Regions from separate parts of the Homo sapiens genome. Here regions 2, 3, 4, 5 and 6 are each reported to be linked to region 1. Evidence: microRNA targets listed by miRTarBase, many of them from high-throughput screens and not tested one by one. Region 1 holds a microRNA gene; each other region holds the end of a gene's coding sequence.

Region 1 (4,107 bases):
CCACCCCCAACACGAAAACCATGGGGACCCACACCCGGGCTTCGGGGACACATACCCGGGCTTCGGGCTCCCGCATCCTCCCCTGGGTATGCAGTTCCAGAACTAAGCGCCGTGTGCGGGATCCTCCCGGCTGACACTCTTCGGCTCCCAGAAGCTGCAGGAGCCGGCGGGCTTTGAGCGTCCGAGCCCTGGGCGCCCCGTGCCTCTCAGGAGGGTGGACGCCGCCCTTCCAGGGATGCGGACCCCGCCTCGGGGCCTTTTCCCCGGCGCCGGCCGTCGGGGCTCTTGGCTCTTCTCGTCCTCCCAGGAACCGTAGGACTCTCCTTGCCCTCCCTCCCGTAGGCCGAGGGGCGCGAGCTGCGCCTGTTTCCTCACGGACCCTTTGGCCTCAGCGCCTCGACGTCTTGCAATTGTTAGCTCACGGCTCTTCCTCCTATAACAAGGCCCTTCCATGTCATGTCCCCTACTCCCTCTTAGCACCAGAGAGATGCCGCCCCTGCCCCACAGGTCACATTCCATGAGTGGTGAAGTTTCTAGAGTTGTAACCATGGCATCTCCAGCCCTGTGTGTTCCTCTCCATGCTCCCCATTGAGCAGTCTTGATCCTGTATTAGCCCCAGGAAATGAAATAGAAACAGGACCCTACGTTAAAAAGTTGCAGTGGAGATGTGGTGGCCACCAGGGGCTGGAACTGTGGGGTGACTGAGAGTATCCAAAGCCCTGTGGCCAACCTACTGGTGCTGAGTGTGCTGGTGAGCCTCTCTGTCAGCTGGCTTCCCCGGGCCAGTTGCTCCCGGAAGCTCTGTCCCAGGTAGTAGTCAATGTCATTGCTCCTTAAGAGATCCTCAAAAGATTTTACTGTATCTTTTGCATGCTGGGTGAGAAGATAACAAACACCTCTCCCTTCTCGTATTTTTTGCCGTAGGTAAGACAGTTCCCGGGGCTGATCCTGAATCAGGGAATCATATTTCCTAATGCAGGACAGAAGAGGAAAGGGTGGATGATAAGTTATGGGGCTTCTGTAGAGATTTCTATGAGAACATCTCTAAGGAACTCCCCCAAACTGAATTCTGGCACGTAAGCCATAGGAGGTATTTAAGAGTAAATTCTACCCTGATAAATTATTGCACTAAAAATTTAGTATGGGCCGGGCGTGGTGACTGACGCCTGTAATCCCAGCACTTTGGGAGGCTGAGGCAGGCAGATCACAAGGTCAGAAGTTCGAGACCAGCCTGGCCAATATGGTGAAACCCCCTCCTCTACTAAAAACACACAAAAAAACTAGCTGGGCATGGTGGCACATGCCTGTAATCCCAGCTACTTGGGAGGCTGAGGGAGGAGAATTGCTTGAACCTGGGAGGGAGAGGTTGCAGTGAGCCGAGATGGCACCACTGCACTCCAGCCTGGGTGACAGAGTGAGACTCTGTATCAAAACAAAACAAAACAAAAAATTTACCATGCCACTGTTCTTCAACTGTTCTATATATGTTAATTATATGTCCCTAGATAAATCGTAAGGTCTGTGAGAATGAAGATAGTTCTGCGTTTCACATCCCTTACAGCACCAGCATCACAGAGATTCACAGCAGATACTCAATGAATAATTAGACTCATCTCATCCTAAGTCTAGATAGGACCTTTCATGTCTTCTGTTTTAACCACCACCTGATGTCTGAATTTCTTCTGTGTTGTGATACTGTGGCTGACTGTATTTTGCAATCATGGCCATCACATAAACTCTCATGCCATCAACTGATGAGACCCAAAACAAGAGACCCTAAGTGAGAGCCACCCAGCTGAGCCCAGTCAAACCACAGAACCATGAAGCATAATAAAGTACTGTTTGAAGTCACTAAGTTTTAGAGTGGTTCTTACTTAGCAGTAGATAACCAGGACGCATACCAAGATGAATGTCTGTGTTTTCAACACAAAGTGTCAATAACACTGATAACTATGGCAAATAGCATTGAGAGCTTAATGTATGCTGGGCACCATTCTAAGCACTTGTACTAATTTTTTTTTTTTTTTGAGACAGAGTCTTGCTCTGTCACCCAGGCTGGGGTGCAGTGGTACCATCTCGGCTCACTGCATCCTCCACTTCCCAGGTTCAAGCGATTCTCCTGCCTCAGCCTCCTGAGTAGCTGGGATTACAGGGGTGCACCACCATGCCCACCTAATTTTTATATTTTTAGTAGAGACAGGGTTTCACCATGTTGGGTAGCCTGGTCTCGAACTCCTGACCTCGGGTGTTCTGCCCACCTCAGCCTCCCAAAATGTTGGGATTACAGGCATGAGCCACCACACCTGGCCAGCACTTGTATTAATTCATTTAAACCTAATATCCACCCTTTGAGATGGGTTCTGTTATCATCCTCATTTAATAGGTAATGACAAAGGCTCAGAAAGGTTAAGAAGGTTGCATGGGTAGTAAGCATCAGAGCTAGGCAGTCTGATTCCAGTATTACCACTATACTATGCTATACTATACTATACTATACTATACTATACTATACTATACTATACCATATGTACTATTACTTTACTGATATATCCCTAAGAGGAAATCCCTGAGATCTGGTATCTCCCAGATACTGGGACATCATCCTATGCCCTCCTGCTTGCCTACCTGTCTTTTCCACAGACCTATATCTACCATTTAAATCAGTGTCCTTGTGAATACCCAGACATGTTGTTTCTTCCAACTGCCTGAGCTACCCTACACCAAGCACAAACTTACACATTTTCAATCCAGAAAGTGCCCAGACAGTGCCATCCTTACCCAGGCCATGAGGCTGATCTCAGCTCCTCAGCCAGCTTCCCTTCTAGTCAATTTTTTGGGAGCTGGGCCTCCAGCTGGGATACTCTCTGGATGAGACTCTTCAGGTCCTTTTTGGCCTGAAGTCCTGGAGAGTAGAAAGCCCCAGTGCCATCAGACAGCCACACCTCATCCTCATCAGTGACACTATGAGGTGAAGACCCCTCCAGGGTGTCAGGAGCTCTCAGCTTCCAGGGTCTTTCCAGACTAGATGAATAATCACTTGTAACTGAGAGGGACTGGACCTGGCTCTTGAAGTTTTGAATGACCTTGTTGGCATTCTGCAGCTGGGCCTTCAGATCTTTGATGTCCTTTCATAGGACCCAGATGTTTTCTGACTTTCCATATACCCAGAACTCTTCCTGCTTCCCTAGTTCATTCTCCAAGGGCTTCCTCTCAGAGGAACTAGCCAGCGTTCAGCCCCGGCGCCCCTGCTCAGAGCACAGCCCCTCCACCAGGACCATTTCCTTGCGGCTGCTGTGCTCCTCATGCTCTGAAAAAAGACAAAGATGTCTTCCTGAATAAAAGTTGGATGTGCTGTTGTGGCCACTGCCTTTGAGAGGAGGCAGGTTTGGTCATGAGGATAATAATTACTAGGGAAAAAGGTGAAGTCGTACTTTATTCAACCCTGACACTGTACTAGGCATTCAAATACAGTATTTCTTATCCTCCTTATACCCACAAGTTAGGTTTCACCACTCTCTATTTTACTGACTGGGGAAACCAAAACTTAAAGAGAGGTGGTAAACCAGCTTGTTCTAGATCACTCAAACTAGCACGTGGCAGAGCCTGAATTCAAATCCTCCAACATCCTGTGTTCATTCCACACACACTGATGTTTCTCAAGACATTATTAACATGGCCTTATCTAGTTAGGATAGCCACAAGAATGTAGGACAAGCTATTTCTGCATGCTGCAAGTTTAATGCTCTCTAAAGTTTACTATAATTTAAAAGTTTATTGGGTTATAACTGTGTGAAAAATAGGCAAAGGAAAATAAGAGTTTGAATAAATATATCAGCATGTTAACATCAGTGTATTGGGGCAGTGGTAGTCAGAATGAGAACTAATCCACAGCATTTTACCCGATGCCAGACACTGTTCTAAAGCATTTTATAAGAATTTACTCATTTAATTGACATTAGTACCTGATGGGGTAGGTAGTTCCTTTATTACTATTTTAACATTTGAAGAAACTGGAGCATAGGAAAGTTTACAAATTGGGATTTGAAGCAACAAGTCTGACCCCAGGATCTTTTCTCTTAACTGCCACAGTACACTTCCTCAAGAATG
Region 2 (4,000 bases), not on the chromosome of region 1:
GTCCGCTATTTGATCAGAGTGAGCCTCCTAATCTTGGAACTCAGTGTTTTCAGTTGCCTTTTACCTTCCTTGAAGCACACCCTCTTCCTTGCGACTGTCTGAATTGACTGGCTCAGTCAGATTTATAACTCACTTCTGAACCGGGGTAGGTTTATCACCAGGTGCCTCCAATAGGTGCCTAGAGTTCTCTGTTCTGATGACTTAAATTCTGTGTGTTGTGAAGGCAAAGACCAGAAAGGAAGACTGGGGAGTTCTCTGCTTCTGGGAAAAAGCACCCTCTAGAAGCAATTTAGGACGAGGTTCAGGTTGATTAATGGTATATTTGTTTCTTAAATATTAGAGTCTATTTACCCATGTCAAAGCGTCAAGAATACCTGCGGAGTTCCGGGGAGCAAGTACTGGCCAGTTTCCCAGTGCAAGCCACGATTGACTTCTACGACGATGAGTCTACTGAGTCTGCTTCCGAAGCTGAAGAGCCAGAGGAAGGACCCCCACCCCTCCATCTTCTGCCCCAGGAGGTGGGAGGTCGGCAGGAAAATGGCCCAGGGGGAAAGGGCAGAGACCAGGGCATCAACCAAGGGCAGCGATCCTCAGGAGGGGGTGACCACTGGGGGGAGGGTCCGCTCCCTCAAGGTGTCTCCTCAAGGGGTGGCAAGTGCTCCTCATCCAAATGAATCAGTCTCTGTCTCCTGGGCCCTGCTCTGGGACCTGCCCCTCACGTTCTCTTGGGGACACCCGAGCCAGGACACTACGCATCCCTGCTGAGTGTGCAGAGGCTAGAGGCTTCTCGGGCAGCCCCTGGCCTGCACACTACTCATGACAGAAAGTCAGCTTTTACTTTTCTTTCCCCTGGCAATTCGTTTTTGGTGCACTCATGCATGCCTTTGAGAAAGGATTCTAGGAGAAAGAGAAGGTCTATGTCAACAGAGTTGTTATCTCATAGAGCCAGTTTTCAAAGCTCCTTCTGCATTGTCACTCACTGATCAGGTGATGAATTCTTCCTAGATAGTCGCCCACTCCACCTCCTACTTAACCTGAGACTCATTATTTAGCTATTTCTGCTTTTGTAAAAATAATTCAGATATTAAACTCCAATTTTAATCTATCATCCAAGGGTAGATGTAGTTGCTTAGTAGCATTTTGGAAAAAAAAGAAAAAAAGGTTTGGTTTGGTTTTGTGACGGAGTTTTGCTCTTGTCTCCCAGGCTGGAGTGCAGTGACACAATCTCGGCTCACTGCAACCTCCACTTCTTGGGTTCAAGTGATTCTCCTGTCTCAGCCTCCCAAGTAGCTGGGATTACAGGCATGAGCTACCACGCCTGGCTAATTTTTTGTATTTTTAGTAGAGACTCGGTTTCACCATGTTGGTCAGGCTGGCTTTGAACTCCTGACCTCAGGTGATCCACCCGCCTTGGCCTCCCAAAGTGCTGGGATTACAGGCGTGAGCCACTGAGCCCGGCCAAAAAAAAATGTATTTATTAAAAAAAAATTTTTTTAACCCGCCGAATAATTCCCATAAGAGTAACAAAAAGGACCAGCCTGACCAACGTGGAGAAACTCTGTCTCTACTAAAAATACAAAATTAGCCAGGCGTGATGGCTCATGCCTGTAATCCCAGCTACTCGGGAGGCTGAGGCAGGAGAATGGCTAGAACCCGGGAGGCGGAGGTTGCCGTGAGTCGAGATCGCACCATTGCATTCCAGCCTGGGCAACAAGAGCGAAACTCCGTCTCAAAAAAAAAAAAAAAAAAAAAGAAAGAAAAGAGTAACAGAAAGATAGGGATTTTTAGGAGACAATTAGATAAAAATGTATGTGATGACTGTATAAGGAGGCCTGTGTGTATGAATTTATAGGGAGTAGAACCGTCTCTCTTCTTAGTTGGTGACTGTTTGGGGCCTGGTATTTTAATAGATGAACACTACTTTTTTAATTTTTTATTTTTTTAACCCTACCCTTAACCCATGAACACTATTTTTAATTAAAGTATCTGATGTAAAATTATTTTGAGTTTTTAATATTTTGATAAACGTGTATTCCTGAAACTTTTTGACTTACTTATCTTACATGTGGTGTCTTCCTGTATATAGTACATTATATCAATTTCTACTTGAAATAAATATTTTGAAAGAATGTTTGATAATCACCCTTTTTTGCTTAAGACATTTTTAGAATTAAATAGTTTCTGCTTTAAGGTTTTTTCATTTTTCATGGTTTTTAAAAATAATTCTTTTAAAATTATAACCTATTATTTTATTTCAGTATTCTGTTTTATTTTTTAAAATTTTAGACACAGGGTCTTGCTCCGTCCCTGGCTGGAGTGCAGTGGCTCAATAATAGCTCACTGCAGCCTTGAACTCCTGGGCTCAAGGAATCCTCCCACCTCAGCCTTCGCAGTAGGTAGGACAACAGGCGTGAGCCACCATGCCCAGCAATGTTTTTTGAGACGGAGTTTCGCTCTTGTCACCCAGGCTGGAGTGCAATGGCACAATCTCGGCTCACTGCAACCTCTGCCTCACAGGTTCAGTCGATTCTCCTACCTTGGCCTCCTGAGTAGCTGGGATTACCGGCACGTGCCACCAAGCCTGGCTAATTTTGTATTTTTAGTAGAGATGGGGTTTTACCATGTTGGCCAGGCTGGTCTCAAACTCCTGACCTCAGGTGATCCACCCACCTCGGCCTCCCAAGGTGCTGGGATTACAGGCATGAACCACCATGCCCAGCCACCCAGTTAATTAAAAAAAATTTTTTTTTTGTAGATACAGGTTCTCAATACATTGCCAAGGCTGCTCTTGAACTCCTGGCCTCAAGCTATCGTCTTACCTAGGCCTCCTAAAGCACTGGAACTACAGGAATGAGCCACCATACTAGGCCCAATATATTAAAAAGTAGGAGTAATGAATGGAAATACTTTCAGCAATCCAAACACTATAGAAAGTACACATTGCAAAGTAAAATCACATTCTGCTCTTCCCCCTTTCCTTTGTCTAAAGATAACAAACATCAATTGTGTTTTATGGCTTCAGTCTTTTGAAAAATTCCTTTTTTGTGTGTTTTTCTTTTCTGGGCCTTTTTTTCTTTTAAAATGTTTACTTTTTTGTGTTTTGAACAAATTTGGCTACTTTTTCATTTAAAAATTAAAAATTATATTTTATTGTTTCTTTTACTTGTTTAAAGTACATCTTTTCAGACTTAAAAACAATTAAACCTGGGTCAATTTCAGAAAGGATTTAAGATGACCCCGAATTTTGCTGGCTTTTCACAGAAAAATGCTAGAAGTCTTATCCTCACTCCTTCATGTGATGCTTAAGATAAAAACTAAATAATCACATCTGACTTTGTTGAGTTTTCTTGATAAATCAGTTTTATTGACAAATAAAGCCTGGTCCAATAATGAGTTTATCCTAAATAAACCAAACATAGTCCAAATTCTGATGGCATCAACCTCCACAGTTTAAAATATGCTGCGTGTGCCAGGTGAGATGGTTCACCCCTGTAATCCCAGCACTTTGGGAGACCGAGGCAGGTGGATCACTTGAGTCCAGGAGGTCGAGACCTGCCTGGACATGGTGAAACCCCTTCTCTACTAAAAATACAAAAAATTCACCAGGCGTGGTGACACGTGCCTGTAGTCTCAGCCACTTGGGAGGCTGAGGTGGGAGGATCACCTGAGCCTGGGGAGGTTGAGGCTGCAGTGAGCCAAAATCACACCACTGCACTCCAGCTTGGGAGACAGAAAGAGACCCTGCTCAAAAAAGTTGATTAATATATGCTGTATGATAGTTTTACATTACATTAATTCTAAATTACTTAGAATCTGGCCAGCTTAGTGCAAATACAAAACAAGGCACTTTAGCTATGGCTAGCAATGGAATCACATATACTGTGGGTCAGACATTTTTGATAGCAAGGATATGGTGAGCTTGGGGCCTCCTTAGCTCTCTGATTGTTACAATTACGTGAATTAACTAAAAGTCTCAAACCTAAGAGCTCCAGGGTTTTGG
Region 3 (4,107 bases), not on the chromosome of region 1:
CTCATTTCACATCAGCGAACTCATGCAGGGGAAAAGCCTTATGGGTGCAGTGAATGTGGGAAAGCTTTTAGCAGCAAGTCATACCTAATTATACACATGAGAACTCATTCAGGTGAAAAACCATATGAATGTAATGAATGTGGGAAAGCCTTCATTTGGAAATCACTACTCATTGTACATGAGCGAACTCATGCAGGGGTCAACCCTTATAAATGCAGTCAATGTGAGAAATCCTTCAGTGGGAAATTACGCCTTCTTGTACACCAGAGAATGCACACAAGAGAGAAACCATATGAATGCAGTGAGTGTGGAAAAGCCTTCATTAGGAATTCTCAACTCATTGTACATCAAAGAACTCATTCAGGAGAGAAACCCTATGGGTGCAATGAATGTGGGAAAACCTTCTCTCAAAAATCAATTCTCAGTGCACATCAGAGAACACATACAGGAGAGAAGCCTTGTAAGTGCACTGAATGTGGGAAAGCCTTTTGTTGGAAGTCACAGCTCATTATGCATCAGAGAACTCATGTAGATGACAAACATTGATAATTTTACGAAACTCTGAAAAGTGGATTCACAAGAGATAGAAACAATCATATATAAAGAGAAACTCTGTAAGTGGAATCATCTTGTCATCTTCCAGAAAACTCATACTGAATAGAAACTTTATGAATGCACAGCATATGGAAAGGCATCCACAGAAAGCTGTTCTTTACATGCAAAAAGATAGTAGACAATACACAGGAAAACTGAATTTAGTAACCACTCTGAAAATTTTTAGCAGCAAGTCATACCTTTTTTTAAAAAGTTCATACAGGTGAGGAACCATGTTAAACGTTGTAAAGTCATTTTACTAAAATAAGATTCACAAAGAGGAAACTTCATGAACCAGATGAATATAGAATAGACTTCTTTGAAATTCATAGTTTACAGAATTTTAATGAGAGAAATTATTGAGCTAATGAATGGCAGAATTAACAAAATTACAAACATTTTATGTATCGGAAGCATATACCTTGGAGGGACCATGCTATAAGGGAAAGTGTAAATCTAGAAATGAGAAACCCCTAGGGAAAAAATATATATAGGAGTGAACATCTTATGAATGTACCAAATAAACCACAGCTGGACTGTTAACCTCACCTTAGAAGCTTCATTCTAAAAAAAAAAAAAAAAAAAAAAAAAAAAACCAACCTGTTATTATATCTTAATATTAATTTTGAAGAATTATTTCTTTTAGGAATCATTTTAAGAAATTTTATTCCAGGTGTTCCAAAATTTCAGGAAAAGGTTTGAGAAAATTCTCAATTATAAATAATAAGATACAGATTATTTCATTGTACAAGTGAATCTAGTAAGGAGGTTAAGAATAAGAAATAACATCCCAGAGCCTACAGGGATATTTAGATATCTTCCTATGTGTACTACATAATATGAATTTTGCAGTTTGGCATTTTACTTGCGAATGCCATATGTGAGACAAAAATCATCTTCCAGAGATTTCAGTATCTCTGATACTGACAATATCTCTGATATGACAATATCATCTTCCAGAGATTTCTACTCTGCATACCAACATTGTTTCTTTGTGTCTTACCAAATGCAACTTGTTACTAGAATATGACTTACTAAAAATGCATTTCCACACTGCAAACATTTTTTAGGGCTATCTTCTGCCCTTTGGAAGCAGTCTTGGCAGCAACCTCTTTAGTAATCAATATAAGGCACACTTCATGTGTTTGTGTAGCCTGGAATCTATTCTACCTTCACAGGTTAGAACATCTTGATTTCCTCTTAACGAAACATTCCCTAACGGTGTATGTAGTCATGAGGGAACCACCATTCAAGATGCCCTGCTCAGGACTTGGCATGAGCACTATGGTCAGCTGAGGCTCAGAACTGTACATTGTTAATGGGTTTTTCAAGTTCAGAAAAGCAACATGAGCTTTTGTTCTGTGGTAGCATGTTGATGTAATAAGTAGCTATTTCAATAGAGGTTCCCAGAACAGCTTTTGTTACTGTCATTTTCTTAACTTTGTTCACTTGTCTTTTATTTTGAGCTATTGGGTGTGCTTTTAATACATTCCTTGTTTGATTGCATTAGCCATTGTGTATCTTTTGCATACAGCTTACTAAATCAGATGGCTTCAGAAATGGGTGGTAGAGGAGTAGGCAGAAACTTGCAAGGATATGTGGATATTTGGAAATGGTTGTTTCCCAAGACAGGATGGAAGTCTTTTAAGCAAGAAACTTGGCCCATGCTATGAAGTCATGAAATGAATTGTTGGCATCATGTGCTCACTGAGGCTTTGGGGAAATGGATAAGTTGTCATTGAAAAATTTTAAACAGAATTCTGGAGTGGTCAAGAGGGGAATGCTTTTGATACCCATGTATAACATGGAGAATAATGATCTTAAAACTTCAATTTAAGATTATGTGTCAGTGATACTACTTAGTTACATGTAGCTATAGAGTCACAGTGGTGAAAAACTCTGCCAGTTGCTTACTCACAAAGTTAGTTTTCTTCACTACCTCATCAGGTTTGTTATGTGAGTGGGCATTAATCTGGGAAGAGTGGGACCCTGCCAGTTAGATTAGGGCTATCTTGGAGGAATATGCGGATTCAATACTGCAAATATTTCTGAAACACCTTCTGCTTTGTACTCTATTAGATACCCAAAGAAATTTTCATCCTTGAAGCGGAGGAATTTAATGATACCTGAATGCCTAACTGTTGTATTCTGCTTATACAGAATCCAATCTCAAGATACTTGGGGTGAAGAATGATGATTCACAGAAGGGAAGGGACATCTTACATAAACAAATAATCGCAGATACTTGCTAAAGTGTATCCCCCAATCTGGGAAATACTGTAAAGGTGTATATTATTATTGATGTACCAAAGAAGACAGAATAAATTCATAAGAGAAAGTTTATATTCAGTTTACTACTACCTAGGGTTAGATTTTAGTTTGTTGTTTTTTCAGATGCAAATCTACATGCAGCCTTGCCTGGTAGAAGCCAGAAGTGTTGACAGTATTGAGGACAGCACTCACATACTGTGGGAAAGAATAATACTTGATTAGGACTTATTATTTAATGAAATGAAAATTTTACAAAACAGAAATTGAGTTACTGGTTTGTAAATCTATCTAGTCCTTCTACCCCAGCCCCAGAAAAGAAAGACATTCCAGAGACTTTTCAGGAATAGTTATTATAAGGAAAATCCAAGGAAAAATAACCCCAATATTTTACAACTTCCCCATCAAATAGAAATTTAGGAGAAAAAATGACTTGCAAACCATATTTGTGAACATAGGTTTAAAAATCCATATTTGTGAACATAGGTTTAAAAATCCATATTTGTGAACATAGGTTTAAAAATTCTAAATGGAATTATAGCAAACCAATGTATAGCTAACAAGAAAGTCATGATATTAGGTTTAACAGACTATTAGTGGATCCAGCATCCTTTGTTCATTACCAGCAGAATCACTATTATTTATAATGGCAGTATGCCCACTTAAAAAGAGATATATGGGGCCAGGCACGGTGGCTCACACCTATAATCCCAGCACTTCAGGAGGCTGAGATGGTGGATCACCTGAGGTCAGGAGTTTGAGACCAGCCTGGCCAACATGGTGAAACCCCTCTCTACTAAAAATACAAAAAAATAGCAGGGCATGGTAACTGACACCTATAATCCCAGCTACTTGGGAGGCTGGGACGGGAGAATCACTTGAATCTAGGAGGCGGAAGTTGCAGTGAGCTGAGATCGTACCACTGTACTCCACCCTGGGTGACAGAACTAGACCCTGTCTCAAAAAACAGAAGAGTATGTTTGGAAGATTTAATATTAGAAAATATTTTAATTAACTACCAGATAAAACTCATAAGGATTATCTCAGTATATGCTGATAAATCACTTGATGGAATTTAACACCCATAGATGACACTAAAATACTATTAAGTTGGGAATTAAAATTAACTCCTGTAACTTGGTAGGGAATATATGTTCTGAAAACACAAATGTCATACTTAATGATAAAATAGTAGAAAGATTCCTTTAAAGTAAAATTAGCCAGGTGCAGTGGCTCATCCATGTA
Region 4 (4,092 bases), not on the chromosome of region 1:
TAGCCACAAGTGTACCTTCGCTACTGGGGCTGAGTGGAGATCCCATTTTTTCCCCCACTCTTCTCTCTTTAAAACTTCTGGGAAACCGTCTATCGTTTGGCCTCATCTGGAGCATAGGCAGCTCAGACAGTAAATCCACCTCTTCTCCTTCACCTGTAGCACCTAAGGTGGTGCCTGGTGTTGCCAGTAGGGTAGTGAATACGCAGGCTCCAACACACGGGTGCACACGTTTGCTGTTGCCTGTGAGTGTGTGTGTCACATACCCTGAGCTTGAGTTAAAAATCAGGGAAAGAGTCTTCTTCTCTCCACTTAGCAGTTTCTATATTTTAATGCAGCCTGAATTCAAAGTAATAATGTTCCAAACTTATTAAGCTGAGATTTTATGTGGGAGAGAATTTGGTCTCTGGGTGGGAGAGAGTGTAAGGCTGAGGGAAGCACATGCCGACTTTTGAGAATTGCTAAAGTGAATGCTCCTTTTTTAACTTCGATTTTTCTGCAGGGGTCGGCACCAGGAATTATTATAGAAAGATCGGCTACAGATTACAAGGCCCGTACATGGTGAAGATGCTGAAATAATGGCCACACCAGTCCACTCTTCTGCAGTATCCTCCCTGGCAGAACACGGAGAATCAGGATTTCTTAAATACTCAACAGAGAGGCTGAGCAGAGCAAATGGGGGGCTTCACCCTCATCCCGCAGCTGCAGAGACTGGAAACTGCCTTCAAGGCCACGGCTGGTCATCTGCTGACCACACCCCAGATCCGCCCTCTCCTGCGTGCACCCCAAAAAATCACTTGCGTTTTTGAGGCTTAAATCATCTATCCAGTTTCTACATTTTGCATGAGGCCTGCAGGTGGCCTATTTTGACTCAGACGGTGAAAAAAGCAAATTAACTCATTTGGACACCATAACTCATGCAATAAAACTGATTGTCATTCGAGGAGCAAACTTAAGAGTAGTTTATTTATATACCCTGGGGACAGAAAGTCAGGTTGAAACAGGAAAACCACCAGACTCTAATCTCAGCCCTTTAACGACATACGCATTGGAGCGCAAGTTAGGAAAATGAGCTTTTGTTTTCATGGAAATCATTCTGATTACAGTGCTGATGTTTAGAAATAAATAGCAGTGTGACTGGGAAAGAGGAATTGCAGTTGTGGGGGTGTGAGCCTGGCAGCAGCCAGCCAGCAGCCTCTCCCAGGCGGGAGTCTACCATCCGAGACGGCGATGACAAAGAGCTTCATTCCACATTCTTTGTTATCTCTACTTCCCACCCTCTTGGCAACTACAGAGCAGTGTGGGCAGCCCCAAGTGTGGTCCCCAGAGAGCGTTTGGCTTTCCTGTCTGTCTATCCTGAGCGGGTGGAGTCTCAGGTTGTGTGCCCCTAAATCAAGATTTGCTTCCACAGAAGCCATTACTTGCAATTTTTTTTTTTTTTCTGAGAAAGTCTCGCTGTGTCACCCAGGCTGGAGTGCAGTGGCGCAATCTCACTGCATCCTCCGCCTCCCGGGTTCAAGCGATTCTCCCGCCTCAGCCTCCTGAGTAGCTGGGATTACAGGCACCCGCCGCTGCTAATTTTTGTATTTTTAGTAGAGATGGGGGTTTCACCATATTGGTCAGGCTGGTCTCGAACTCCTGACCTCAGGTGATCAACCCACCTTGGCCTCCCTAAATGCCGGGATTACAGGCATGAGCCACCGCTCCCAGCCTTTGATTTTTTAAGGTGGATTTTGGTTGTTATAAATGGAGAAAGGTAAGAGTTCAAGTTCAACCCGTGTGTGAAAGCAAAACAATGGAAAACAGGATTGGCTTCTTCAAAGGCTCCTCTTGTAGAACTGCCTCTTTGAAATTTCGAGGTAATCTACTTTGGAGACTCTGCCTGGAGAGGGTCAGTTCCTAAGTTAAAAGCATCGCTTAACCTTGGCTCCTGTGGCATTTTACAAAGGTTTAAAGGAATTGATTCCTCTGAAAGGGCCTGAAAATAAAAAGTCTTTAACATACAAAGAAGAGTCATGTGGTTTTCTTTCTCTCCCTGTAAATGCAGTGACATTTGCCACAAATGTGCAGGTTTCAGTTTCCAACCTATGGCACTGTTCATTTCCTCCCGGGTGCTGTTTGCCATTTCATTAAACTGCTATGAGGCAAATGGCAGTGGCTTTGTTATGGGCTGGCTGTGGAACCACCACAGCTTTCCATGAGTGTCGTTTAGGGACTTAGCTACTTCTCAATTATGCTTTTTTACCCTATAAAAATAAAACAATAAAGCCTACTCCCGCTGGTTGTCAGAGCTGTGTTGCTGGAGACAGAACCAGCTGCGCAGCCCTGGAGCACAAAGTCTCTGGGCCTCGACCTTCTCATCTGTCCTAGGTGCCCAAATGGATCCACACACATAAAAGGGCTTTTGTGAAATGGTAAAAAGGCCTGCACGTGGAAAGTTCACTTCAAAAGATGACAATTTAGGGAATTTGAAACAAAATGACAGGAACTTGCACCTTTCTGATGGCTGTCAGCTATTATTGAATCCTGGTTTTATCTCAGGATTCACGAGAATCCCTCTTTCTAGCTCATCCCTGGCCTTCCTTGCCGTATCTTGTGGCCTGTGCAAAACGGCAGCAGTTGGGGAGCTTCCCCCGGGTGGCAGAGCTCCCGCCTCCCTCTGCCACCAGAAGCTTCCGCTTCTCTTGTGACTGCCAGGGCTCGTTCCGGCACGGATGGTGCTTGGCACCTCCACTGTCCGGCTGGTCTGTCTGCTCCGAGGCCTGTGGGGCCACCTCATAAGAAAGCTCAGTTGGGCACAATTCTGCTGGCCTCAGTGTGAAACCATCACAGCTGCAGGCTGATCCCATCTGAATGGAAGGACTCCTTAGCAACCACCTCCAATCTAGAAAGCTCTGCTTTTAGCTCAACTTCTGGCTACATCACCTGAAGTTTTTTTTTTTTTTTCTTTTTTTAATTCAAGTCATATCAAAAACAGACTGAAATAAATTTGAAGAGAAAATGAGATTTTTAAAATACATTATCACCGAATGAAAGGGCCTGGTAAAACTCATTGTTCCTCCCATTTGGGAACAAGCAAACCGCTTATCCATTTTCCATCTCTGCAGGCCCTAAAGTACTGCAAAGACAACTCAAAAACCAACGCCTGTTCCCCTAAAACGTCTTTCAGATTGCAAATTTTCATTGCCAATGGGGTTTTGGCTTTTTTGTTTTCAAGATTATCACATTGAAAACAGAAAATCCTGCTCCTAAAGAACTCACAGACCCCTGAGTTTACCAAAAAAAAAAAAAGCACAAGATCTGGAATCTGAAAACCTGGTTTCCTCATTAACCATGAAGCTTTGAGCAAGGCCCCTCCCCGTTTTGAGCTACCATTTCCCTATTTGTAAACACGTGTCTCTCGGGGCAAGCATAGGAATCAGATGTGGCATTTGAGAGACATTGCATAAACCAGGACATATACCAATAGTTGTTGCTGCCCCCACTGAAGTGGCTTCACTGCTGATGTGTGACCTTGGGCAAGTCAACCCTGCAAAGTTTCTTCATCTGTAAGATGGGAGTGAGGACTACAGAAGCCCATGTATGCAGGGTTCTTAGAACAGGAAGCATATTATAGACGCACTAGCTTTGATTACTAATATCTAGCAAGTGCAATCGTCAGCCCATTTTTTTTTTTCAATGAGGGAGCTTCTCTGCTGACAATAGAATTTCTGATTCTTTGCTACAATCTTAAGTTTTTCTAGAAGCCCATGTCAGAAGAATAGTATCTCTGATGCTCCAAGACCCTATTCTCCTCCTCCTCTGGTCTATTTTATTCCACAAGTCTAGGGTTGCACATTGTCAAATCCATTCCTTGAGGGCCAAGATCCTAGCTGAGACTGCAACAGCAAAAAGCATTTTGAAATACCGCTGTCACTGGAGTGGCTTCCTGGAAAGTTGTCCAGCAGCAGCACGCATTGCCGATCCCAGTGTGAGCTGGTGGCTGTGTCCGCCTAGGGAGTCTGGCAGCCATTTGTGGCAGGGGTTGGCATGGGGAGGGGACACCTTTCTATATGTTGGAGTTGTGTACACCAGTAATACACTTGTGTTTCATTC
Region 5 (4,107 bases), not on the chromosome of region 1:
GTAATCCCAGCACTTTGGGAGGCCAAGGCAGGCAGATCACTTGAGGTCAGGAGTTCGAGACCAGCCTGGCCAACATGGTGAAACCCCATCTCTACTAAAAATACAAAAATTAACTGGGTATGGTGGCTCACGCCTGTAATTCCAGCTACTCAGGAGGCTGAGGCATGAGAATTGCTTGAACCCGGGGGGCGGAGGTTGCAGTGAGCTGAGACGGCAACACTGCACTCCTGCCTGGGCAACAGAGCGAAGCCCTTTTTAAGAAGCACTTGCTATGTACAAAGCAGGTGTGCTATGAACTAACACTCTTATTCCTAGTTCCAATGAAAGACGGTCTTTGGCCAACGAGACCCACACCCTTCAATTCAGGCATGGCTTCGTTGCAGTTCTGTCCAAGTGAGTACTCCCAAGAGGCCAGCAGCGGTGTGACTCCATCGCCCAGGGGGCAGCTTTGGGCTCTCTCTCGTAGATGGAGCTGGTGGTCAGGATGAATGTGGACACTGTCCTTCTGAGAGGAGCCTGCTTAGAACCCAGGCTCTGATATTGATCTCTAGGGTGCTAACATTTGGGTCACAGAAACCCCACTGTGGTCATCAAAGGAGGTGTATTGCCAACTAGTCGTGCTACAAAAGGGAATTAATATGACGCTGTGGAGGGAAGAAGGCAGCTGTGGGACTGGGAAGTAAGGAGGGGATGAGTAAGGCCATTTGAGGGATAATTAGAAAATGAACCAGCCCAACGATACAGAATTCAAATATTCCACCTCACCCCAACTGCGCTACGACCACTTTATATTTTGACATTCAGCTTTTATTCCTTTTTTTTTTTTTTTTAAACTGAGACGAAGTCTCACTCTGTCGCCCAGGCTGGAGTGCAGTGGTGCCATCTCGGCTCACTGCAACCTCTGCCGCCCAGGTTCAAGCGATTCTCCTGCCTCAGCCTCCCGAGTAGTTGAGACTACAGGTGGACACCACCAGGCCCAGCTAATTTTTAAAAAATTTTTAATAGAGACGGGGATTTCACCATGTTGGCCAGGCTGGTCTTGAACTCCTGGCCTCAGGTGATCCGCCTGCCTCGGCCTCCCAAAGTGCTGGGATGATAGGCATGAACCACTGCACCCGGCCTCATTCCTGGTAAAGGTCTGGTGCCCTCTGTCCTAATGTATTCAGTTGAAAGCAGTCGAGTTCATTCAAAAAGAGAAGGCCAGGTGCGGTGGCTCACGCCTGTCATCCCAGCACTTTGGGAGGCTGAGGTGGGTGGATCACCTGAGGTCAGGAGTTCAAGACCAGCCTGGCTAACATGGCGAAACCCCGTCTCTACTGAAAATATGAAAATTAGCCAGGTGTGGTGGCAGGCGCCTGTAATCTCAGCTACTTGGGGGCTTAGGCAGGAGAATCACTTAAACCCAGGAGGCAGAGGTTGCAGTGAGCTGAGATCGCACCACTGCACTCCAGCCTGGGCAACAGAGCAAGACTCCACCTCAAAAAAAAAAAAAAAAAAAAAAAGGGATGAGTGTAGTGGCTCATGCCTGTCATCCCAACACTTTCCCAGGCTGAGGTGGAGGATCACTTGAGCCTGGGAGGTTGAGGCTACACTGAGCCATGATTGTTCCACTGTGCTCTAGCCTGGGCAACAGAGTGAGACCCTGTCTCCAAAAAAGGGAGAAAGACTCCTCAAGGGCTGACGCATGTCCTGTCAATTGCAGACCATCCATAATGTACGTGAACACAGGCCAGGGGCTTTCTCACCACAAAGAATTCCTCTTCCATGTAAGTACTTATTATTGTAAAGCTGTAGATGGCAAAGCAATACCAGCTTTGATTTCCTACTCTGATTTTAATTTGCAGGTACATGGGGAGAACCTCTTTGGAGCAGAATACCAGTTGCAAATTTGCGTCCCAACCAAATTACGAGGTCTCCAGGTTGTAGCAGTGAAGAAGCTGACGAGGACTCAGGTATTTAAAGGCAGTTCTTTATCAGTCACACCTCTTTCCACAGTGACTACAGAGTCTCAAGTATAAAAACCAGAGTTCTAGAAACAGAGTGAAGACAAGTTAACCATGGGAAAAGATTAGGAGTAAATTCCCGAAGTCCTGTTCAGAAGGACTCTCAATCACTCAGCTCTTAAAGCAACCTGTCAGTTTTCCTCCCTTTGAGGAAAAATAAGCAAAAATTGGCCAGGTGCGGTGGCTCACACCTGTAATCCCAGCACTTTGGGAGGCCGAGGCGGGTGGATCACAAGGTCAGCAGATCGAGACCATCCTGGCTAACACGGTGAAACCCCGTCTCTACTAAAAATACAAAAAATTCTCCGGGCGTGGTGGCGGGCGCCTGTAGTCCCAGCTACTTGGGAGGCTGAGGCAGGAGAATGGTGTGAGCCCGGGAGGCGGAGCTTGCAGTGAGCCGAGATCCTGCCACTGCACTCCAGCCTGGGAGACAGAGTGAGACTCCATCTCAAAAAAAAAAAAAAGCAAAAATTAAAACCTTGTCAGTAGACAGAGACATTTTCCCTTTGAAAATTGATAAATTCTGCTTCTCTGTGTGAGCGATGTAACATGTGACATTTCTTACACTGCCCCCTATAAGTTGCTTACTAGCTTCCCTTCTTCTCCCCTGAGACTCTTTTTTGGTCTCTGCTTTGCCTCAGCCTCTTTGCTTTCAGTTGTCTCATCTGTAGTCTGGTTCCCAAAGCTAGCCTTGATACCTGAAGCAACAGGCTCTGCTCAGTATGAAGCTGAAGCCTGGGCATTTTTTTTTTGCTCAGACTACATAAGTGTTAAGGCTCAAAAAACGGAAAGGAATTTACAGAAAGGACTCTGCTGACAATTAGAAAGAGGGCTTATAGGTCAGGTGCCATGGCTCACTCCTGTAATCACCCAGCACTTTGGGATGCCGAGGTGGGTGGATCACAAGGTGAGGAGTTCGAGACCAGCCTGGCCAACATGGTGAAACCCCCATCTCTACTAAAAAAATACAAACAATTAGCCGGGCATGGTGGTGTATGCCTGCAATCCCAGCTACTCGGGAGGCTGAGGTAGGAGAATTGCTTGAACCCGGGAGGCGGAGGTTGCAGTGAGCTGAGATCGCACCACTGCACTCTAGCCTGGGTGACAGAGCAAGACTCTGTCTCAATAAAATTAAAAAAAAAAAAAAGAGGGTTTATAAATATAAACGTTTGTTTTCACATGTAGTTTATTTATTTAAAAAAATAGAGACAGGGGTCTTGCTATGTTGACCAGGCTAGATATGAACTCTTGGGCTCAAGCGATCCTCCTGCCTCAGCCTCCCGAGTAGCTGGGACTACAGGCGCACGCCACTGTGCCCGGCTAGTTTACTTCTTTCAGAACATTTGTTATCAGCAAATTTAAACATTTCAACAAATATTTCAGTTTCCATTTGGAAACAAAATTCTTGTTTGAAAAGCTGACTGGAAACCTGTGAGAATGGGAGTTCCACCCTCCTGTGGGGATGGAGGTTGAAACAGCACCAGAGGCTTCAAGACCAGTCTCCTCTCATTTCGGGGCAGTAAGATACATTTAGCTTACTTAAACAGACTGTGCTGGCAGAGCAAGTCAGTGGCAGAGCTGAAGTTCAGCATTGTCCTGTGGAACTCCTGGATTTTTCTCTTAATTTGCTTCATGGCAGGAGTGTTACATTTAGTCTTGAAGGTCATTTGTTTCAGCATCTTGTCTGTCAGGTAATGTAACCAGAGCACATTACTATAAGGGTGATATTCACCCCAGCGGTTGTTATTCTCCTTCTTCATGAGCCTGTAGATGTCAAACTGGTAGTCACCGTCACCGGTAAACAGGTCCTCATCCATGGAAACGTCACAGAAAACCACAATCCCATCCCGTTCCAAGCGCGACAGGGTGTAGTCAATGATGCTCACTTGCAACCCACAGCTGGGGATAGTGCTGCTCTTCCCATTGAGGGTGTAGTGGAGTTTTTTGAGGCTGGTTTTCTTTAAGAGCACGTTCCCCCAGTGTAAGTCTCGGTGCTCAAAGCGCAGTGATGCCTCTGCCACTGCGAGGGAGGCTGTGAGCTGGTGTAGAATGCTCTTTGCAGTAGCCAAGGAAGACAACTTGGTTCGCATTTGCTCTAAGTCAA
Region 6 (4,107 bases), not on the chromosome of region 1:
ATCTCATAAATAAATAAATAAATAAATACACATATAAATAAAGCCAGGTGCAGTGGCTCATGCCTATAATCCCAGCACTTTGGGAGGCCGAGGCAGGTGGATCTTGTGAGGTCAGGAGTTCGAGATCAGCCTGGCCAACATGGTGAAACCCTATCTCTATTAAAAATACAAAAATTAGCTGGGTGTGGTGGCAGGTGCCTGTAATCTCAGCTACTCAGGAGGCTGAGGCAGGAGAATTGCTTGAACCTGGGAGCTGGAGGTTGCGGTGAGCTGAGAGCTGAGATCACGCCACTGCACTCCAGCATGGGCGACAGTGCGAGATTCCATCTCAAAAAAAAAAAAAAAAGAAAAGAAAAGAAAAGAAAGAAAAAGAAAGCACATTAAAAGAGACAGTTCCTGGTTTCCAGAGGGTATTATGAAAGGGCTTGAAAGGATGGTAAGAGCTGCATGCCTAAACTCTGACTGAGGTAAAAGTTGGTAACCCTGGGAGACTCCCGGAGAAAGGTGGGTGATCAGTTCAAATTATAGCTGAATGTTTATCTGAAAGGATGCAGGAACCCACTGTCAAGTGTTTATTCCTACAGCTCAAGGCAGGTATTAGCCTAGAAGATGGGTGATGGCCTCCTCAAGAGACTATAATCCTCGCCTGCCTGGGGCAAGAAATATGAAGCTCTCCTATATTCAGTTCTCTGGTTATGAGATGGCATCATATCCTTCCTTGAGATATACTCTTGAAGATCATAGTCTTCTAAGACAAAAAAGAAAGCCTATCTAAATAAAGAGTTTTAGGCACTATGACATGGTGGTGAAAAAATGTTTTGGTCAGAGAATATCTGCTCAGCAATATATAAAGCATCAACAATTCTGCTCAGGAATGATAGACCAGGCTTGTCCATGAATGCTACAAATCTGTTCCAGGCCTTCCAAACCCTGCTTGGAATGACCATGCAAAGGACTATTATATCACAAATTATGTGCAAACCACTATCCTATCAAAATAGGACAAAATCAGTAATTTTTTTTCACACAAATATACAACCTTCACCCTTCACTTCTTTCTTTCCGGTAACAGCAAGAAAGAAATATATATACCTTAAAACTAAATTATGAGGTACAGAGATAGGCCATAAACCCCATTCACAGAACACTGATAACATCTTCCCTATAAAACCATGGTCAAATATCAAATAATTGTTAGATACAATCACCTTTCATAGAGGCAGCTACCTGGGAAAACGCCAACTGGTCTTCCACTCACATACAGAACCACCATGGTGGGCAGAGGCACTTTGGTATAATGAAGAAAGCATGAATTTCAAAGTCAGATCTGAGCTCAAATCCTGGCTCCGACAACTTACTAGCCAGTCACCTAACCTCAATGACACTCAATTTTCTTGTATAATAGAGGGAGAACTAAATAACATATTATCAAAAATTCCCCAAACACTAATTCACTATGTGCATAAGACAGATAACAGTGGGCTTAGGGATTCACTGTATACACAGAGGAATGGCTGAGTTAAAAATAGGGAGATTCTAAGTGTTTCAGAGTGACTTTGAGCTAAGCACTTAAAATGTTTTAAATATTGGTGGAAGATGGGCTAAGACCTTCAAGGAGGACTGGTCATAAAGAAAGGCAGAGGAAGATAGAAAACATCTGTTGTATTGATTGCTCAACACCTCTCCGTCCCTTCTTCAGGGAAAGATTTTTCTCAGTGACAAAAGGAAGAAACCAGATGAGAAAGCCTCAGCTCCTTTTCCAGTTCCCAATCTGAAGGAGTTGTGTGAAGGCAAGATGCAGCTGTGGCCACTGTCTTGCCACCATGAGGTTATGAAAAATGAAAGTCAACATGCTGAAAATTATGGAGTTAAGAGAGAAGTGTGATGAAGTGCTGAGTTGCCAAACCAAACATAGCACTGCTTACCTCTAGATTCCCCTTAAGCAATCAATCAATGTTCTTAAGGTCTAGGCTGCTAGTACTTGGTATTCTGTTCAATACATCTGAAAATATCCTAAGTACTACCTTACACAAAAATTCTCTTTAATCACTCTCCCTAAAGTGTTTAGAAACACTGCTACAATGTCCTATACTTAAGATTTTATCATTTACCACGTGTCTGGCTTATCATATATTTCATGCATTACTCACTTAATCCTCACAACAACCTTGTAAGGTAGGTAATTGTTCCTTTTTTACACACAGGTCTGAGGCTCAGAGCAGTTAAGTGACTTGTCCAAAACTGACAAGCTAGTTCATGGTAGAACTGGGGTTAGAACATGGATATCTCCAACCCCAAAGTTTGTACTTTTAGCCTTTAAACTCTATATACCATGTGAAGGCAGAGTCTCCCACTAGTTTTATATTAACTGGTGACTGTATCTGAAGTTTTTGAGTCTACAGTTGTTTCAATTTCATTTTTTTCTGGTTGTGTAGACATATGTTGAAAAGATGAAGCCTAGGTAGTTCTCCATCATCTGCAGATCCTTCCAGAACTGTGGGAAAGGAGGGTTCAGTGAATTTTTGCTGTGTTCTTTTAACCTAACAGTGTTATTATATATTTTGTTGACAACTCTAAAGTCAGCTTGTCTTAAAACTAAAAAGGACAAAGGATCGGTGTTTATGATTTTACTTAACAGGAAACACGCTCTAAAAGGAAGGGACTTGCTCGCGGTTCCACTGCTGCTAAATGCCAGTGTCAGGGTGCAATCCCAGGGCTTTGGGCTCTATATACTACGTGCCTTTCATAACACTGCTGAGTGAAAATAAGCACGTCTTCATTGCATTTAAAAAATACTGTGCTTTTTTTCTTGCATATAAAATTAGTATATTCTCATGTAGATAATCTAGAAAGCATAGAAAAGTATACAGAAGAAAATAGAAATCACCTATAATCCTATCGCCCAGAGATGATCACTGTTAACATTTTGGTTTACTTCCTTCTCAATTTTTCCTATGCAAAAATATTTTTTTAAATTTTGGATTGTATGTCATTATCTTCCGTCTTATCCAATCATTTCCCCATGGCATTAAATTGTCTTTAAAAATGTTTGCAATGGCTGCAGAACCATCATATGGATAGCTCATCATTCATTTCAACCCTGTAATGTTGAAAATCTAGTTTTCTTCTTTCAGTCGTATATGATGCTGTCATGAACATCCCTTTCATTAATCTTTGTCTACTTCTAATTATTTTCTTAGAAGTAGAGTATGATTCTTAGAAGTAGAATTAAAGTTGATACTAAAGAACTACTTTTTAGAAAAGCAGCAGTCAGCCCTACTACCCACAATATTTGTTATTTATGAGGTTTCTTTCTCCTCATTATGTTTCCTCTGGTGTTGAATAAGCTGTGAACTATACCGATAGGCTTTCCCACACTCACTACATTTATAGGGTTTCTCCTTAGTGTGGGTTCTCAAGTGTAGAATAACTTGAGAAGTCTGCCTGAAGGTTTTCCCACATTCATTACATTTATAGGGTTTCTCTCCAGTGTGAACTCTCTGATGATCAACAAGGTTTCGATTAGAAGTAAAAGCCTTCCCACACTCATTACATTTGTAAGGTTTCTCTCTACGATGAAGTCTCTGGTGTTCATTAAGAGTTTTCCTTAAGATGAAAGTTTTTCCACACTCATCACATTCATAAGGCTTCTCTCCAGTGTGAATTCTCTGATGGTCCATAATCTTTGTATTAGAACCACATGTTTTCCCACACTCCTTACATTTGTAAACTTTTTTTCCTCTGTGCATTCGCTGATGTTGAGTAAGGTTTGAACTACGGCTAAAGGCTTTCCCACACTCAATACAAGAATAGGGCTTCTCTCCGGTGTGAACTCTGTGATGTGATATAAGGCCCGAACTCCGACTAAAGGCTTTCCCACACTCTTTACATTCATAAGTTTTCTCCCCACTGTGGATTCCCTGGTGCCGAATAAGATGTGACTTTCCACTGAAAGATTTCCCACATTCACTGCATGTATAGGGCTTCAGTCCAGTGTGGATTCTCCGATGAACAACAAGGTTAGAGCTATGACTGAAAGCTTTTCCACACTCCTTACACTTATAGGGTTTCTCTCCCGTGTGGATTCGCTCATGTACTGTGAGGTTT

Evidence for each region. Region 1 holds the annotated microRNA hsa-miR-3675-3p (CAUCUCUAAGGAACUCCCCCAA, at 1,040-1,061, shown strand). A microRNA usually pairs through its seed, bases 2 to 8, with sites in the 3' UTR of a target mRNA and lowers its output. Matches are read on the target gene's strand: a 7mer-m8 pairs with bases 2 to 8, a 7mer-A1 pairs with bases 2 to 7 and ends in A, and an 8mer does both.
Region 2: miRTarBase lists RIPPLY3 as a target of hsa-miR-3675-3p. The part of its 3' UTR that is shown has no 7-base or 8-base seed match.
Region 3: miRTarBase lists ZNF268 as a target of hsa-miR-3675-3p. Seed matches in the 3' UTR shown: 7mer-A1 at 580-586 and 7mer-A1 at 3,531-3,537.
Region 4: miRTarBase lists ELP3 as a target of hsa-miR-3675-3p. Seed matches in the 3' UTR shown: 7mer-m8 at 1,591-1,597.
Region 5: the mRNA of HASPIN is a reported target of hsa-miR-3675-3p. The part of its 3' UTR that is shown has no 7-base or 8-base seed match.
Region 6: the mRNA of ZNF660 is a reported target of hsa-miR-3675-3p. Seed matches in the 3' UTR shown: 8mer at 152-159.

What each region holds. Positions count from the first base shown.
Region 1 is chr1:16,855,912-16,860,018 of GRCh38, reverse strand. MIR3675 (microRNA 3675) reads left to right here and starts at 998; the gene lies at 998-1,070. It also overlaps the pseudogene PDE4DIPP9.
Region 2 is chr21:37,017,534-37,021,533 of GRCh38, forward strand. It overlaps RIPPLY3 (ripply transcriptional repressor 3), which reads left to right. Exons shown (of 4, transcript NM_018962.3): 4 at 341-2,129. The coding sequence ends at 674. Among named protein-coding and RNA genes, the nearest start is that of RIPPLY3, 13 kb to the left of the region's middle.
Region 3 is chr12:133,203,985-133,208,091 of GRCh38, forward strand. It overlaps ZNF268 (zinc finger protein 268), which reads left to right. Exons shown (of 6, transcript NM_003415.3): 6 at 1-4,107. The coding sequence ends at 546. Among named protein-coding and RNA genes, the nearest start is that of ZNF268, 25 kb to the left of the region's middle.
Region 4 is chr8:28,189,150-28,193,241 of GRCh38, forward strand. ELP3 (elongator acetyltransferase complex subunit 3) reads left to right here. Exons shown (of 15, transcript NM_018091.6): 15 at 500-2,004. The coding sequence ends at 576. Among named protein-coding and RNA genes, the nearest start is that of ELP3, 98 kb to the left of the region's middle. RefSeq lists an enhancer at 2,455-3,207.
Region 5 is chr17:3,725,764-3,729,870 of GRCh38, reverse strand. HASPIN (histone H3 associated protein kinase) reads right to left here. Exons shown (of 1, transcript NM_031965.2): 1 at 3,172-4,107. The coding sequence ends at 3,539. ITGAE (integrin subunit alpha E) reads left to right here. Exons shown (of 31, transcript NM_002208.5): 24 at 316-393; 25 at 1,703-1,766; 26 at 1,845-1,952. Among named protein-coding and RNA genes, the nearest start is that of HASPIN, 3.9 kb to the right of the region's middle.
Region 6 is chr3:44,594,382-44,598,488 of GRCh38, reverse strand. It overlaps ZNF660 (zinc finger protein 660), which reads right to left. Exons shown (of 3, transcript NM_173658.4): 3 at 1-4,107. The coding sequence ends at 3,300. All of the region lies in intron 2 of ZNF660-ZNF197 (ZNF660-ZNF197 readthrough), which reads right to left. All of the region lies in intron 2 of ZKSCAN7-AS1 (ZKSCAN7 ZNF cluster antisense RNA 1), which reads left to right. Among named protein-coding and RNA genes, the nearest start is that of ZNF660-ZNF197, 11 kb to the right of the region's middle.